Linked DNA regions of Homo sapiens: region 1 is reported to be linked to region 2. Evidence: microRNA targets listed by miRTarBase, many of them from high-throughput screens and not tested one by one. Region 2 holds a microRNA gene; the other region holds the end of a gene's coding sequence.

Region 1 (3,000 bases), not on the chromosome of region 2:
GGGGAGGGGGCTGGAGTCCGGACCCTGCTCATCTGGCCCACTGTGTGCCCTGGTGCAGGGCCAAAGCCGTCCAGAGGAACAGGTGCCACCTAGTGATTTCTGTGGGGTGAGAAGATGCAGGGCAGGGTTCCAATGCCAATGATCGCCCTTGACCTAAGTGGCCCAGATCTGTCAGAACCCGTGGATGTGTACAGTGATTGGATAGACGCCTGCGAGGCGGCCAATCAGTAGCGACACAGAGGACCCGCCCCCTGAGCAGCCCCGCGTACTGTGGATCCAGCTGTTCGGTTCTGGTCCAGAGACATTCCAGGGGTCCAGGGTGTGGGTCCTGGGCTGTCACAGCCGTGTGTGTGTGTGTGTGTGTGTGTGTGTGTGTGTGTGTGTGTGTGTGTGTAGTGGGTGTGCGTGTGGGTGTGGGTGTGAGTGAGTGTGGGTGTGTGTGGCTGCACGTGTCACTGGGGTGGCCGTGAGTGTGTGCTCACAGGTACGCGGTGGTGTCGGGTTCCTGGGCCTGAGGGGCCTGAACTGATCTCACTTGGCTCCGAAAGCCTTTGCTGTGTTCCCTGCAGCCCCTGGCCCCCCAGCCTTGGGGCTCTGGCTCCCCCCGGCGGAATTGGGGGACTGTTTCCTGACATCCTGGACAAGGGAAGCCCACTAGAGGCTGGAACAGGACCTCTCCAGCCTCCTCACCAGCACCGTGCCCATCTCAACTGGACTTCCCGCTCTCCTTCTCCACCTTCTAGTGCCCGTGGCCGGGGATTCAAAGCCGCCGTTCCCCAGGTCCCTGGGCTGGGCCCTGACAGGGAGCCGCCCCCCTCCCCATGGTAACCAGGAAGCCCGTTTCATGTTCAGTTGCTTTTGTAGAGGAAGCAAGGGCTGGGATGGGGACAGCTGTCAATCACAAGCCCTTAAATAAAGCAGCCAGCGCACATCCCTTGCTGTCCGTGATGTCTTGGGTTCTGCGTCTGCCTGGTCACCAGAAGAAGGAGAGGGGACCTGAGGCTCTGACGTTCGGGAGGTGGCCTGGTGGCCCATGTGACCAGCCCTTCAAACCACCCAGCGTTTTATTCAGTCAGTAAGCATTCAGGGTGGTGGAGCAGGCAGACATCTGGCCAGGTGTTTACAGCAGTCACAATAGGAAATGGGGGAGGTGAGACAGAACAGGTGGTCAGAGGAGGCTTCTGGGAGGGGCAGGCTGAGACAGTGACACCGTAGGGCCACCTCTAGCCAGACGCTGACCTCTGGCCTTCCTGCGTCGCCCCAGTGTCCTGACAGCCACTTTGTGGGGCAGGTGCCAAGCTAACCCCAAGTTCAAAGATGAGGAAACAGAGGCTAGAGGTGAAGGAGGTCACTGGCCCAAGACCCTACAGCCAGAAAGTGGCACAGGGGGGATTTGAACCCAGGAAACGAGGCTCCACAGCTTACAGTCTGACTTCTTGTGAGCCCAGAGTCCAGGCTGAGGGAACAGCTTACAGGCCGTTCTGGAGGTAGTGAGTGGAAGAGGGACACGGGAGGGAAACATGAAAGGGGCCTTTATTCAAGGGTGGTGAGGACTCTCAGAAGGCTGGTGTTGGGGCGGGATGTGTGTGGCCGATGGGGAGCACCTGAGGGCTGATGTCCCCTTAGCTGGTCGCACCGGTGACAAGGACCACAACACCCAGCAACCTGGGGCAGTGCCAGACCCTCCACCTGGCCTCATGAGCCCGGGTGGCAGGTGACCTGTGCTTCAGAGTCCTCGTTGCTACAGTGCAGGGGATGAAAGCACCTTCTTCCCGGAGCCATGCTGAGGATGGAAGTGCCAGGCATGGTTTGAGCGGCTCTGGGGCCCACCCAGGGCACTGACGGATGTGAACAGCGGGGGGAGACATTGAGCTGGCCCGGAAGCCCTGGCTGCCAGACTGGGCTGCTGGGTCTGGCCTGTGCACCCCCTCAGGCCCACTCTGCCATGACATGTCTTCCCTGGTTATCCCGCCACCTCCAAGATCCCAGGTAAGGTCTGCTAGCCCTGGCAGGAGCCGGCACACATGCGCAGAGTGGTGGACAGGCACCTAGGTTTAGGGTGATGGCCCTCTGGGATCCAGCAAAAAGGGGGCTCATTCCTCTGGCACCCGAGGCCCTTCCTGCCGCCCGCCCACCCCAGCCTCACAGGCTAAGTGCTAATATGGTGCTGTTTTCCCGAGGAGGCAGGGCCCTGGGCCAGGCCCGGATCCTCCTCAGCATAGCTTCCCCGCGCCGGCCCAGGGGGAGCAGGACTTGCGGTAGCCAGGCCAAAAGCGCCTGGAATCCGGTTTACGAGGCCCCAGGGGCTGCGTGCGTCTGTGCGCGGGTCTTCTGGTGTCTGCCTCCGCAGGTCTCCACGTTCCAGCCTCAACTCCTGCCCTCCCTGGGGAGAAGACAGCTCCGTGCCGCGCTCCTCGCTTCTCTGCCTCCTCTCCTCCTTGGAATCCTGATGGTTGGGGACCTCTCCCTCCTCCCGGGGATAACAGGGTCCCCTCTGAAATGTGAGGAGGTTGAGGCCCTGGACACAGCCTTTTAGAGTCCCGGGTTGGCAGGCTCAGCCTTAAGACGGCTGAGAGCGGGCGGGGCGCACAGAATTAACCGTGCCCTATGGTGCCCTGTGCCAGTCAGTAAAGGGCCATTGCCTTGGCTCAGAAGTGCCCCTCTCCCTGTCCCCTTTCCCCTCCCCACAGTCTGGGGCTAAAGGGTTCACCCTGCCCACAGGGCCCACCAGGACCCCTACTTGTCATCCTTTCTCTATTGATGCCTGGTCTTTACCAGCGATTAAACATGTAGAACATCACCCCATCTGGGGGTGTCATTTCATGACCACAAGAGGCTTACTGTCCCCATTATTTTGATGGGAAAACAGGTCTAGGGAGGGAAAGTGATTGCCCGAGGTCATCCAGGCAGCTGCTCTGTGATTCACATGCCATTTAGCCTGTCCCAGTACTCAGGCTCTTTGTCACCACCATCCACAAGCCTCTGGGAGAGCAGTGTGGG
Region 2 (4,218 bases):
AAGCAGAAAACTAAAAGGATAATTTTAGCCCCACTTAGCCTTTCAGAAGAAAAAGGCTGCAGAGCACAAAGGTTTCGTTTCCTGATGACAATAAAAAAATTCTCTCCCTAGAAGGGCCTAACTCCAGGAAAGCTCAGAATAGATCATTCTGGAAAGGATTAACAACAACCTTTCTCCACAGAGAGATTTAAAAAGCAAAACTTAAGTGTGTTATATCTAAATTACAATGCCACACAGTACACATTATGTGTTTAAAAAGTAAAGTCAATCCCAGTGATAACAGTTGGAAATTCCATTGAAAATGGGACCTTCACACCTACACTTAAAAGAGCTGCCCATCATTGTTTTGGTTTTAACAGTCTCTTCTGAAATCAGAGACTTGTGTAAACTCTCACAATTAGCTGGCAAAAGGATTTTCAGCAGTAATGCGGATTCAGTACTTTATAGATTTTTATGCAGAGTTGTTTTTTTTTCTGGTCCCGAAATGAAAACAGGGAGAGAACAATTTGCATTCCCCAAACTACATGGTACATCATGGCATTCAGGTTCTGAATTTGAAATCGGCTTTGGAGTGTGTGTGGAACTTCCTTAAAAAAAAAAAAAAAGAGGTGGGTAATAAGATGCCCTCAGGGAAAAACCTAGTGAAAATGGAAATCTGAAGTCTGGAATAGAAGTTTGCTCCAGTTGAGAGCGGGGAAAGATGGACATGATTAAGGAGGGGGAAGCAGCAGCGGCTCCGCTACGGCGGGCGCTAGGACCGCGCCGACGCCGCCGGACCCGCAGCGCCCGCGCGGTCTCCTTCAGGGCAATTAGAGCTTCGCCGGCCGAGCCAGGCAGGGCGCTGTCAGCCTTAATGTGAGCGCTGACTGGCAGCGCTCAGCCCGCGCTCAGCCCGCAGGAAGCACGACCAGTGAACCCATATTGCTTTGACAGTTGCACTCATCTAGAAATAATGCAAAACGCTATTTAGATGTATATATCACGACCCTGGGCTCTGGGAAGAAAACAATCTAATGAGGGGCTGGGAGTCCGCTCGACACAAGCAGTGAGGAGGCGTGCGGGTGGGTGCGCCAGGGCGGCCTCCCCCGTCGCGCTCGCTCCTCTTACAGCTCTTCGTGCTTGATGCGGTGGGAGCGGCGCGTCACAGCCGGCTTCAGGGAGCTGGTCTTGGCCTCTGAGGCTTCGGTAAAGAATTTGAAAATAGACGGAAAGCTCTTCCAGGAAGTTAGCTCGTGACGGTCGGTGCCTGCAAAGAACAACACATTCGGTTACCAGGTGGCCACGCGGGGCCAGGCGCGGTGAGGGCGGCGAGGGCCAGGCCGAGCCCCGGCTCCCGACCACCCGGTCCCGCCCCTCCCCGCCCCTCCCGCCTGCGCCCCGCCTCAGCCGCCCGCGCCCCGCCCCTCAGCCAGGACCCCCGCCCCCTCGCGGGCGCGGGCCAGCCGACTCCCAGGGCACAACTAGGGCTGCGGGGTCACTTGCCCCCTGGCTCAGAGGAACTCAGACTTCGCTATCCGCGGCGTCTAGGCGTCTCCGGCCTCAGTCCCCATCCCTCTCCCAACGCGGGGACGCGGCCCGGATCTGTCCCGGGGTCGTCCGAGGCGCGGCTGGCCGCCCGAGGCCTCCGCCTCTCCGGGCCAATGGAAGCGCTGGGCGGGAAGGGCCACTCCCTCTCCCTCCGGGAAACCACCCACTCCCGAGACTCGGCGCGCGCGGGGATTGGTTTCCCCTGCGTGCGGGATCGCACAGCGCCTGTTTCCTTGCTTCCCAAGGGGGTGGTGTGGAGGGGAAGGGGGAATGATTTTTCTTGCGTCTCCCGGAAGCTGTGCTGTTAGACACAATTACCTCAGCTAGGTCACTGAGACCAAATCATACGGGACGCTTAATGAAGGACCGCATTCAAAAGGGATTACGCCTTGAAGTGTCCTGGCGGGCGACATTTTTACAGATTTTAAGGGGCAAATTTAGAACAGCTAAAAAAAAGGTTTCAAAGCCGTGACTACTAAAAGAGCATCTAGGCCTCCCATTTTATCAGGAGGAATTCAACTTAGAAAATGCAGGTTAGTTGTCAATTTATGGGGTTACTTTATTTTACTACGGCTTCTCTCTGTGGTTTCGATGTAATACTAATGTACAGCATGTTTTCAAATCAAATCGACCTTCAGTTTAACACAGGCAGCGGATAACACGGATGCAAGCATAAGAACAGATGAGGAAATACATTTAGCTATTTTTGACTCCCTGTGATGGCTTATGTAGCATTTTACCAGTGGCTTCATAAATGAGCACTTTTTAAAATTAAAAATTAAAATAATTACAGACTTCCACAGAAATAATGAGTGAATAGCTTTTAAACAGTTGAAATCTCTTCCTAGATCACTCAATTATGCAGAGAGATACCGCTTGGAAGTCTCCGGATTCAGGGCCTCAGTCTGATACTTTAACATTGTTAATGATAATTCTTTAGTCTGTAATAGTAGGTCATTGCTATGGTTACTCTACAATGGTGCAACACTTTGCTTTCCCCTTCAGCTATTCGCTGAGACCTGGTAACCACATTTGTTGCCTAGCAACAGTTTTGTGACAGTATCACAATCTAGGAGTTACAACAATAAGGATGCTATGGCTGCTGTCGGCCAGAGAGCAGAAAGCTACAGTCTGTGCCTGACTTAGCTGTGGGAGCTGGCCCTACTAGAGAACCCCTCTCTCTTTATCAGTGCCCTCCCAAGGATTCTCTCTATCCTCCTTTCCTCTGCAGACTGGCCTCATGAACTTGAATTTGAAACTAAGACCCAGTATTAAAGTCATATCCCCCAACTCAGACTAAAAATGAGGTCATTTTATTTGCTTACTCATTTTGGGCAAAATTCATTGTTACTCAATAGGAAGGAGGGATGAGTGTAGGTTTATCTTGTTAAATCCTAAAGTGCTAGGTGGATTTTGACAATTCTTCATAGAATTCTTGGGGGAAAATTATATATATATGCCTGCTTGCATCAATAGGTGTTATAATACATAACATCTAGATATTATTATATTTTTACTGATTTATTCAAATGACAATCTTAAAGGATTCTTTTGAATTTGGAGGCATTTATATTTTCCAAACCTAACTGAGCAGTTCTACATATGCTCAGACATACCTGCTTTAAATGATATTTGCGGGTAGATCTAGGAGGACCAGTTTCTGGATAGGGTTATCAAATGTGTGTCTCTATTCTATAGTGTTTGCAACCCTAGTTTCACTTCAGTAATAACTACACAGTTGCACTTATAATGGTAGGACATTTTAAAATCAATTGTAATTCATTTTGAAAGACCATTCTCAGATGCATACTACGTGGCAACACCCACCCCCAAATACAATAAGCCAAAAAAAAAAAAAAAGGTGTTAATTGTCTCTTTTCGTAACCATTTCCCAAGCTTACAGCCACATTTGGCATTTCCTCCATAGTGATCACACTTACACCTACTAGTGTTACTAAGGCTATGATCAATTTGTAAGCTTTCTCAGGGAATTCCCCTCATAATTCCTCCCACCCCTTGAAACCAATTCAATCTATGAATCTAGAGGGACCTAAGGAGTCAACGGTCTGAAGCAATTTTAACTCCTTTATTTCTTCTTTACGGGTAACAATCCTTCTGAAGGATGAACAGATTTCCCTGGTGATAAAATCACTACAAAAGCTTTTTAGTTTTAGCTTTTGATGACTCTCTGCTTGATTAGTCCTGGACTGAAAAGACCAGAGTCCCTGAGATAACTGAATACTTGTACTGGCTCTCAACATTTACTCTTGTAATTTAAGAGTATAAATAATGAGAATGTGTGCTTCTGTCAGACGAAGGGAAATTGCTAGGAGTAAAGGTAATAAGGTAGGTTAGCAACTGAATTACAGAGAATGGGGTGGAAGGGAGAGAATTCTCCCTAAACTAAGGAATGATAACATGAATATGTAATATAAAAATGTCTTTTCTAAATTTTTGGAAGTAGATTTTAAATGATTTTTAGAATACCATTCAGAAGTTGAATAATTACATGTCTAACTTGGACTGCATATATACATTTCAAGAATATGTTTGGAGACCATTTTCAAAAATTTAGGTCCAAAGTTCAGTGAAAATATTTACAGATGAATATGAAACTCTATCCATGACAATGTTCAGTGAATGGAAACTTTTGAGAGCAGGTTTCTAGTACTTAAAAAATACATCACTTTA

The links. The annotated mature microRNA hsa-miR-2277-3p reads UGACAGCGCCCUGCCUGGCUC and lies in region 2 at 827-847, opposite strand. An mRNA with a match to its seed (bases 2 to 7 or 8) in the 3' UTR can be bound and repressed. Matches are read on the target gene's strand: a 7mer-m8 pairs with bases 2 to 8, a 7mer-A1 pairs with bases 2 to 7 and ends in A, and an 8mer does both.
Region 1: the mRNA of ELOF1 is a reported target of hsa-miR-2277-3p. Seed matches in the 3' UTR shown: 7mer-A1 at 333-339 and 7mer-A1 at 891-897.

The regions. Positions count from the first base shown.
Region 1 is chr19:11,550,977-11,553,976 of GRCh38, reverse strand. It overlaps ELOF1 (elongation factor 1), which reads left to right. Exons shown (of 4, transcript NM_032377.4): 4 at 167-931. The coding sequence ends at 231. Among named protein-coding and RNA genes, the nearest start is that of ELOF1, 6.8 kb to the left of the region's middle. RefSeq lists enhancers at 1,210-1,329, 1,749-2,043, 1,413-2,384.
Region 2 is chr5:93,619,884-93,624,101 of GRCh38, forward strand. MIR2277 (microRNA 2277) reads right to left here and starts at 905; the gene lies at 813-905. ARB2A (ARB2 cotranscriptional regulator A) reads right to left here. Exons shown (of 11, transcript NM_032042.6): 11 at 1-1,246. The coding sequence ends at 1,104. LOC124901028 (a long non-coding RNA gene) reads left to right here and starts at 1,799. Exons shown (of 3, transcript XR_007058874.1): 1 at 1,799-2,060. RefSeq lists a silencer at 1,414-1,463.